Linked DNA regions of Homo sapiens: region 1 is linked to region 2. A link means that fine-mapping ties the variant in region 2 to the expression of a gene that starts in the linked region. Tissue or cell type: thyroid. Region 2 holds a variant in brackets; the other region holds the start of a gene. All regions are shown on one strand. Distances are between the middles of the regions.

Region 1 (5,153 bases), 59 kb before region 2:
ATGAGCTTTTTTCATATGTTTGTTGGCCACATAAATGTCTTCTTTTGAGAAGTGTCTGTTCATATCCTTTGCCCACTTTTTGATGGAGTTGTTTTTTTCTTATAAATTTGTTTAAGTGCTTTGTAGATTCTGGATATTAGCCCTTTGTCAGATGGATAATTGCAAAAATTTTCTCCCATTCTGTAGGTTGCCTGTTCAGTCTGATGATAGTTTCTTTTGGTGTGCAGAAGCTCTTTAGTTTAATTAGATCCCAATTGTCAATTTTGGCTTTTGTTGCCATTGCTTTTGGTGTTTTAGTTATGAACTCTGCCCATGCCTATGTCCTGAATGGTATTGCCTAGGTTTTCTTCTAGGCTTTTTATGGTTTTAGGTCTGATGTTTTAAGTCTTTAGTCCATCTTGAGTTAATTTTTGTATAAGGTGTAACGAAGCGGTCCAGTTTCAGTTTTCTGCATATGGCTAACCAGTTTTTCCCAACACCATTTATTAACTAGGGAATCTTTTACCTATTGCTTGTTTTTGTCAGGTTTGTCACAGATCAGATGGTTGTAGATGTGTGGTGTTATTTCTGAGGACTCTGTTCTGTTCCATTGGTCCATATATCTGTTTTGGTACCAGTACCATGCAGTTTTGGTTACTGTAGCCTTGTAGTGTAGTTTGAAGTCAGGTAGTGTAATGCCTCCAGCTTTGTTCTTTTTGCTTAGGATTGTCTTGGCTATACGGGCTCTTTTTTGGTTCCATATGAAATTTAAAGTAGTTTCTTCTAATTCTGTGAAGAAAGTCAATGGTAGCTTGATGGGGATAGCATTGAATCTATAAATTACTTTGGGCAGTATGGCAATTTTCATGATAATTGATTCTTCCAATCCATGAGCATGGAATGTTTTTCCATTTGTTTGTGTCCTCTCTGATTTCCTTAAGCAGTGGTTTGTAGTTCTCCTTGAAGAGGTCCTTCACATCTCTTGTAAGTTGTATTCCTAGGTATTTTATTCTCTTTGTCGCCATTGTGAATCAGAGTTCACTCATGTGTTGGCTCTCTTATTTGTCTACTATTGGGGTATAGGAATGCTTGTGATTTTTGCACATTGATTTTGTATCCTGAGACTTTGCTGAAGTTGCTTATCAGGTAACATCTCATGCCAGTTAGAATGATAATCATTAAAAAGTCAGGAAACAACAGATGCTGGAGAGGATGTGGAGAAATAGGAACGCTTTTACGCTGTTGGTGGGAGTGTAAATTGGTTCAACCATCGTGGAAGACAGTGTGGCAATTCCTCAAGGATCTAGAACCAGAAATACCATTTGACCCAGCAATCTCATTACTGGGTATATACCCAAAGAATTATAAATCATTCTACTGTAAAGACACATGCACACGTATGTTTATTGAAGCACTATTCACAATAGCAAAGACTTGGAATCAACCCAAATGGCCATTGGTGATAGACTGGATTAAGAAAATGTGGCACATATACACCATGGAATACTATGCAGCCATAAAAAAGGATGAGTTCATGTCCTTTGTAGGGACATGGATGAAGCTGGAAACCATCATTCTCAGCAAACTAACACAGGAACAGAAAACTAAACACCGCATGTTCTCATTCATAAGTGGGAGTTGAACAATGAGAACACATGGACTCAGGGAGGGGAACATCACACACTGGGGCCTGTTGGGGAGTGGGGGGCTAGTGGGGTAGGGATAGCATTAGGAGAAATGCCTAATGTAGATGACGGGTTGATGAGTGCAGCAAACCACCATGGCATGTGTATACCTATGTAACAAACCTGCCCGTTCTGCACATGTATCCCAAAACTTAAAGTATAATAAAAAAATAAATAAAGCAATTGCCATCTTGTTCTGTTAGGTTTTGAAGGAAGGTGTGAATTGAAAATATTTACCCAACTCACTTTTTATTTATGTATAGAGAAAAACACCAGATCTTCTCAAACATGGCAGCACTCTATAAACCCTCCTTAGGAATATGACTTGAAAATGAAGGAAGTCCATCAAGAACTAAATAAAAATAAAAATTCAGGGATAGATAAGTTACAGTGAATATCAAATTCATTTAAAGATAGAATTAAGACAACATCTGGAAAAATAAAGTTGCAGAGCAATTGCAAATGTTCTCATTGCTAGGAAGCCGAAAGTAACAGAACTAATGGAAATTGAGAGGCAGGGTTACCCCCTAAAGGTAGGTGGAGGTGTATGATGCTAATTAACCTCATCTTTCAGAGCTATGAGACTTTCTAAACCCGAACATGTAGTGAGCTCCTTACACCTCTCTTAATCTTTTTACGTAATGCTTATAGGCCTTTTAAAAAGCACGTCTTTTAGGGAAGAAAGCAATAGAGATTCCCTTCAGTTTATTTTTCTTAAATTCCAGTAACATGAAAAATTTGAAATTATATGAAGCAGACGTAGTGTGATACCGTAATTAGAAAATTACTTCTGTCTACCCTTTCTGCGTCTTCGTTTCTTCAGCTGTGAGACGGGTATTTCTCCCAGTGTTGCTGTGAGGATTACACGTATTTACCTGCAAAGTGCTTAGGACAGTGCCTGGCTCACGGTCAGTGCTCACGTTTGGGCAGCTGCACTTGGGCGCTGCTGGCACAGGAGGTAAGTTAGTTTGGCCTATTGCAGCGTCCCAGCATCTGTCGCGTTTCTCATGTGTGATTGGGCTCTGGCGGCCCATCCTGGCGGAGACTTCGGCTAGCAGGCCCCGCTGCAGACCCCAGGCCGGCTCGGGTCTACCTGCGCCAGCGCTGTACCTGGGCGACCTTGGCTTTGCCCCCACCGGTGACCCGGCCCGCAGGACGTGTGGGTGCCGCTCAGCTCCCCCCGCCTCGGCCGCCGACCCCCAGCTCCCCGGCGGGGCCTCCTCCTGCCACGTGACGCCCCCGCCAGGGGCCCCAGCGCCCTCCTCGCGGCCGCGCCGTTCCGGCTCCCGAGCCCCGCCTGCGCGCGGCCTCCTCGGCGCAGCCATCCTCTTGGCTGCCGCGGGCGGCAAAGCCCACGGCATCTGCCATTTGTCATTCAGCCCGTCGGTACCGCCCCGAGCCTTGATTTAGACACGGCTGGGGCGTGCTCTGGCCTCACTCTCCGGGCGGGTGCTGGACGGACGGACGGACGGGGCAGCCGTGCTCACAGCTCAGCAGCGCGGGGCCTTGGCGCGCGGGGCGCTTCCCCGGGTCGCCGTCATGGCCGCGGAGGTGGCACGCCCGAGCGGCCTCGCCTGAGCTCCGGGGGTCGTCGCCCCGCAGGGTAGGTGTTTGGGTGCTCGCGGCTGCGGCGGGCGGGCTGGGGGCAGCGGTGGCCGTGCATTGCCGCGCTGCGAGGACGGCGCTGGGTTCGCGGCCGCGAGGAGGGTGTGCCTTTGCCGCGCCGCCTACGTGCGGGTCCGGGCTCCGCGGGGCCGGGTGCGGGACCCCGCAGATCGTCACCCGCAACCCAGGCAGCCCCACCGCGAGTGCCGCCGGACCCCCTGGACGCCGCTGCCAGAGGCGTTCGCGCCTATCTGGTATGAGGTCCACAGACCCGATTCTTACAACCTGGCGCTCTAACCTCGCCAACGGGCCAGGAAAAAAACAGAACAAGGAAAAGAAGAAAAAGTCTGTTCCAAGTAATAATGGGACTAGACAGTAACTGTTTGCACTTTCGTCTCTTATGGAAAATATGATTATTTTGATGCTTTAGTATTACAGACTGTATCAGACATACTCTTAAAAGTATTTAAAAACGTGGGGTCCTAAAAATTTCCTAGATCGGGACAGCTGATAATGCGACTTCTGTTAGTCTCCGCATCCAACTTTCAGGGCGGAATGGGGATTTCTACCTTTTACTGAATATACTCCTGTAATTTTGAATATTTTTTCTCATCAAATGTGTTACTTTCATGTTTTAGGAAACCAATAAAAATCAAAAATAGAAACACCCAGCTTAGGTCCTCCTTCTTCCAGGAATCCTCCTCTAACCCCTCCCTCCCAGGCAGGATCGGAGGCCCCTCCCGGGTGCTTTCTGGGGCCTCACTGAGGTCCTGGTCCCCTAAGTCCTCCCCCGCAGCCCCTCCGCGTATTAACCCACCGGTCTCGCTGGGCTCAGAGATTGCTTACTTAGCACATGGTAAGTGATTAATACTGTTTAATGACCGAGGGAAAAGATAAAATGTTCTCTGATGTTTCACGCTTTTCGCTCTGAAGTTAAATAGTGGTAAATTTATATGCGCTTAGATAAGAACATTTAACAGTTAAGGATCTGGAAAAGTTGACGACGTCCGATGTCCGTGTTTCCTGATCCAGCAGTTGCACGCCTGGGTATTCATCCTTAAGAACAATGTTTTTCAGAATTTGAAGTCCATTTTAGTGGGTCGTAAAGTCATTTAAATGGATGATCAGAATTTGTAAAACACAGACGGAGAATAGAACATCAGTGTCTCTCAGGTCATAGGGGTGTTCGCTTTATGAATCTCTCTCCCCCTCCTCAGTTTCATACATACACAAATGTGTGTCATGATGTAAAACGTCATTCCTTAGTATGAGTCATGGACAAAAAAGTTTGAAAGCCACTGCCCTAGATAAATTTTAATACATGTCCACAAGCAGACGTGTACAAGAAGGTTGACTGTAATGGCAGAAAACTGGATGCCGCCTTCATGCCTACCTGAAGGAGAAAGATAAATTATACACCACTCATAAAAAGGGCACACTGTACAGTGGCCAATGAAGTATTTTTGTGTTTCAACACAAATGCCTTTCAGTGTTGAACCAAAAAAAAAAAAAGTTGCCGGAGAATGCTGTGTGATATCTTCTATGTAAAATTCAGAACCTGGTGGAGCAAAGCTGTTGTTTAGGGATGCATGTATAGGCATTAAAAGTAGTAAAGAAAAAAAGTCAAGCTAATGGTCATCTCCTAGTGGGGAGGAGAGGGTCAGGGGCTCAGAGATGCTGGAAATGCTTTATCGCCTGACCTGTGCAATGGTTACATGGGTGTTTGCTTTGTAACTCTTTGTTAAATGATACACACTGGGTTTGAATGTTACATTTCCCCCCAAATATGTTAAAATATGGGTGTTGCAAACTGAAGAAGCCTGAGTCTAGGGCTCTCCGTCTGTTATTCTTATTTCCTGGCTTCTTTTTAGAAAAAAAAAATCT
Region 2 (5,153 bases):
AGTTGTGCCCCATTAGATGATGTGTTATGTAGCACTGGAGAAGTCCTGGAACTACAGTTGTGTTCTGACTCCCCCCTCCACCCTCGTATACCCCTGTCCCCTGGGAACACAGTCTTTCCTGGCTGTTACCATATATATATGTTCTTCTTCCCGTCTGATCCTCTCTCATCCCCAAAATAATCAACATGAGCAGAACGAAGCAGATGGCACAAGCCTTCTTTGGCATACTGGCAGATCTGTATCACTCAGTATTTTTAGAATCAAGGGGACTGAAAATTATGTCCTGAGATGTTTTGGGGTAAGACTTACTATCTTTCTAGGGTGACAGGTGTTGAAATAGCACCGTATTTAAGACTCAAATGCAATTTCTATGTCAAGTCACAGAACAGAATGACTCGCATCAGGACCATTGCTCTGTAAGTTCTGTTAGGATCGTTGGTGGCCTGCCAGATAATAGAAAGTTGTCATAAATTGTTTTAAGGATGTGGCCAGAAAGTGCATTGGGTTTCAACCAAAGATTGGACTCATCAGTAAACAGCCTTTGAACTGATCAAGTGCGTGGTGATGAGAGATGTTGTATATACCCACAGTTGTTGTTGTTGTTGTTGTCGTTTTTTAATAGCTAAGCTTTGACCCTCAGCCACAAAGCGTTTATAGTCTGTTGGGGTAGACAGTCTTGTTTTTACAGAAGTTTATTATTATATCATGAAAACAAATATTTGTATTCTAAGGCCCATATGGAAGAAATACATAGTTACGGTGATTAAAAATTATGAATTTGAGTTCATTAAGGACTCTCTGAAGAAATTAAAGAATGTTCACTATTATATAACTAACTTAGTTCTGAGGACCAACTTTGCAATTAGTATTAGGCTAGGTATATTAAACACACAGACCTGGAACTCAAAGCCTTGGGAAAAGATATTCATGAAATAAGCATAAAAACGAGAGACTTTGTGTTTTAGTCTTTGAGGGAAACTTGAAGTTGGAGGAAATGTGCCTCACCTTTAAACCATGGCCATGTCTAATGCTCAGATTGTCCCATTCATCTTTGAGGGCTCAGGGGAAATGTAGGCATGGGTGATGTCCATGACTGCTGGCCTTTTGAATCTTGGGAAGAAGTGGCTGGAAAGAGATCTGGAAAACCTCATTCAGTGCCAAAGGGCAAGTTTTTCAATTGAATAAGCTTTATTTTTTTCTTTGTACTCCTAGTGTGTTTGGTAAGCAATGAGTCAAGGTTTACATCTGCTGAGAAAGAATGCAGGCGTTTTACTTGCCACCTCTTGTGTCCTTTCTACACGTGTGTTGTCCACACTGCCACTTCTTTCCAGTATAATTGATATGGTGTAGTATCCATAGGGAGAGAATGTGTCTCTTTCCCATTACATCCATAGCTAAATGGTTAGAACATGAGCTGTACATTGACACATGGTTCTATAGTACTTTTAATTCCAGTGTTTCATAAATACTGCCTATTTGTAGGGTGTTTATTTAGGTTACAGTGTGCTTTCAGATCCATTTTGTCTCAGTCGATTGTCCCAGCAGCCTGTTTACATACATCAGGTAACTATCACAAATGAGGAAACTGAAACTCGACACAGATAACATGGGTAAGTTGGAATTTGAACTGGGGAATCTTTCCACTGGATTCACAGAACAAGTGCCTGGATTTATAGCTTCAGGGTAAACACCTGAGGCTCAATCAGTAGCACAGTTGTGTCCAAGGAAAGCACAGCCTTGCCTTCCTCTCCTTTGATGGGAATACCAAGAGTCTGCCTGTGCCGTCCAGGACAGCAGCCACTGGCACTATGTGGCAATTTAAATTAAAGTTAAATAAAGTAAAAGTTTCAGTTTCTCAGAGGCACATTTTGAGTGCTCAGTAGCCATCACATCTGTAACATTTCCATCATTGCAGAAAGTTCTGTTGGACATGCCAGTCATCTCATAAAGCAAGAATTGGGGAGAATCAACTTACTGAGATAAGTTGAGAAAAGTGTATATGCAGGGTGTTAAGTAGGTGAGAGAAATGTAAAACCTTCCCCAACAAAGCAGCTCCTTCTCTGAAGGGGCGAGTGGGACGAGTGCTATTTTGAGTTCAGCTATAAAGGGAATGAGAAAAAGATGCATTTTCAAACTTCATACTCTGTGTGTGTTAGTCTTTTTTAATAAACCTAGAAAGAACACAGAGCAATTCTAAGTGAATGAGTGTGTTTTATAGCTGGGCCGGTATTATGGCCAAACTTAGGCTGGGTGAGAAGTAGAACAGATCATGATACCTAGCAGAGCAAACTCGGCAGGCGGAATAGAATTCCTAGAAGGAGTTATTTTGTTTGTGACCAGGGCTGTTGAGGATTCCTCAAGATAGGGCCTCAGGCATGAACTAGAATACTGGAAGGGAACCAGGGGTTGGGGGAAAGGGGTTTGGGCAGAGCCGGGACAGGTAATTAGTTAAAGTCACACATAATTGCAGAGGTTGTGTGTGCTGCTAGAATCACAGCCGTCACAAAGAAGGTGTGGTGCCAAGGTGCTGGCCGAGGACTCCTGTGTGTCCCCTGGTTTGGATTAGCGCTGACCAAAAGTGCCCGAGTCAGCTTTCACGTTTCCAAGTGGGTGAGGCAGGATGGTGAGGGGTATTTGCTTGGTACCGCGAACTCTGTCCAGACACTGAAAACATCTACAACAGAAGATGAGGAACTCTACAAGTTTCCTGGAATTTTTGCTGGTTAGAAAAGGAATATGTGTTTGGTTATGTCCGTGTGCTACATAATGCTATATTTAAACATGTTTAAACTGTTATTACAATAAAGTTTCATCTAGTTAGACTCATACTTTCTGATCTGAAAGTAACCAAAAAGGTAAGTAAAAATTAACTTTTAACAATAAAGAGCAACTCTAGAGACATGGCAATAAATGACTGCAAGGAGCAGGGAGGGCTTTAAAGACTCACTGCAATTGGTCAGTTTACCATGAAGTGCCCTGCTTACTGGCAAAGTTCAGCAAATGCTGGCCTGTGGACAAAAGCTACTCAAGTGTACTTCA[C/T]CTAAGCATACAGTACTCTTAATTTTTTTAAGTATTGGCACTTGAAAGGTGAGCATTTGCCCACCTGAAAATCTCTCTCTAGAATAGCACAGGGTGGTAGTGATCCAGGGCTTTACCCTGGCAGGTAGTGGCAGGTAGAGGCCGATTTGAAACCTGCTGTCAGAGTCCAGGGATGAAATGTGGGGGGTTGGTCCAGGTCCTGAGAGTGAAGCTAGGAGGAGACATCTCCAAGTGTAAATTTTTGGAACACAGTTTCTCAGCTTGGGTGGAAAGCCACCCTAGTAAGTGGAGTATTGTTCATGATGCAGGCTCAGACACTTCAGGTTCCTCCAATGATGGCCAATTGGTAGAAAAAGAAGAACCTGGTTTTTGGTGACTCTGGCTGAGTCAGAAGGATGATAATGATTTGGGTTTGAGACAAGTTGGGTTTGAGGAGGCAGTAGGCCCATCTCCTGGAGGTGGCCTACCAGCAGGTAGCTGGATGGGCCCTCCAGGGTAGGGCCAGGGAATGAAGAAAGGTCCATAAACAAAAAAGGAAGAGATTAGTAGAACTTACTAGAGGATGGTGCCTACAAATCTGAACGTGGCCTGGGCTGGTTCCTGAGCTATCAGCTTTGTGCCACCACATCAGTGCAACTAGACTAGACTAGCTTCATGCACATTCTGTTTATATCAGCCCTTCTGCAGAGTAATCTTACAAACAAATTGACTTAGGTGTATACAAATTATTTCTTATCCTCTGGAAGTTTAAACAGGTGTGATAAGCAACTAATGTTATGCCAACAATGAGTGATGAGGAAGAGCCCGTGGTTTGAGTAAGTGTGGGTGATTTTTGTTTATGGACCAGTAAAAACACTTGAACACACTGAGGGAGGGAGGTTTTTGTTTGTTGTTGTTGTTGTTGTTGTTGTTGTTTTTCTCTTTGGTCAATGGAGCTTCACACTGACCTGAAATAGATAATACTGGATCCGTGGAAAGAACTCTCCTTACCAGAGGGAAAGTGTGCTCCACTGGCCATCAGTGCTTGACTCCTCACCCTCTGAGAAGCCAAAAGTGTAGACTTGTATGCAGATGGCCCTCTCACATGGAGAACTGTGTTCCATGAGCACCATTTAAAGGAACGTGTTGATTGTGGGTAGTTGATTCTGAAGCGGTCAGGGAGGAAAAGCATTGTTTTCAAATGGCTAATGCAAGAAAACTGTTCCTCTTCTCTCCACAGCCAATCCGGGGGACCCAGGACATGCCCCAGCTATAGTGATGCAGATTACCTTTCTGCTCCTGAATCGCACCTGTGCCTCAGACTTTCTCCCCTCAGCTTGAGACTGCATGTAAACTGGGATGTGTGAAAGCAGGAAGCAAAGCTAGTGACAGCTGAGAGGTCCATGTCTGGGTAGAACCAGGCCCACGATGCTGCCTCTCCCGTGGTCTGGAGTTCAGCTGCAGGGACTCTGCTGATGTGCCCAGCACCATCGTTCTGTTTGTGCTTAAATGGCACAGCATTTGGTCAGCACATCTGAAAAGGAAGGTGTGAGAAGCAAAGCCCATGGCCACGTTCCCCTGCCAGTTATGTGGCAAGACGTTCCTCACCCTGGAGAAGTTCACGATTCACAATTATTCCCACTCCAGGGAGCGGCCGTACAAGTGTGTGCAGCCTGACTGTGGCAAAGCCTTTGTTTCCAGATATAAATTGATGAGGTGAGAGGCTTTGGCAAAGGTATGCACTTTTAGAAGTACGTTTAAATGGCTTTTCTAGCCCTCAGACCACACGATGCAAGGGGAAAGGGACACAGGATATGGATGCATTTTAGCCTTTGAGGGATTCTTGAAATCTGCATCCAGTGATTCCTGTGGTTTTATGTGACCGTCTTGTTGTGCAGTGTCAGTTCATTCTTTCAACAGAGATTTTTTATGCACCTACAATATACCAGGCCTCTCCCCATGGCTGGAGAAATAGGAAAAGACAATTAAAATGCAACCTCACTGCTTTGACAGAGCTATACAGGTGGTAGAAGTTGTTCTTCACTGCCTGATGAAACCTGGGACGGCTTCTCAGATGGGGACAATCTTTAAGCTGTGACACAATGAAAGAGGAGGAGGCAGAGAGGAGGTTCTGG

Evidence for each region. PIP is the estimated chance that this variant, and not a neighbour inherited with it, causes the effect.
Region 1: PLAGL1 starts here. The variant in region 2 is fine-mapped to the expression of PLAGL1 in thyroid (GTEx, PIP above 0.99).

What each region holds. Positions count from the first base shown.
Region 1 is chr6:144,006,204-144,011,356 of GRCh38, reverse strand. It overlaps PLAGL1 (PLAG1 like zinc finger 1), which reads left to right and starts at 3,098. Exons shown (of 8, transcript NM_001317162.2): 1 at 3,098-3,267. HYMAI (hydatidiform mole associated and imprinted) reads left to right here and starts at 3,098. Exons shown (of 1, transcript NR_002768.3): 1 at 3,098-5,153. RefSeq lists silencers at 2,862-2,911, 3,102-3,291, 3,487-3,669.
Region 2 is chr6:143,947,566-143,952,718 of GRCh38, reverse strand. PLAGL1 (PLAG1 like zinc finger 1) reads left to right here. Exons shown (of 8, transcript NM_001317162.2): 7 at 4,259-4,734. The coding sequence starts at 4,583. Among named protein-coding and RNA genes, the nearest start is that of HYMAI, 58 kb to the left of the region's middle. The variant C/T (reference allele first, on the strand shown) is at 3,040.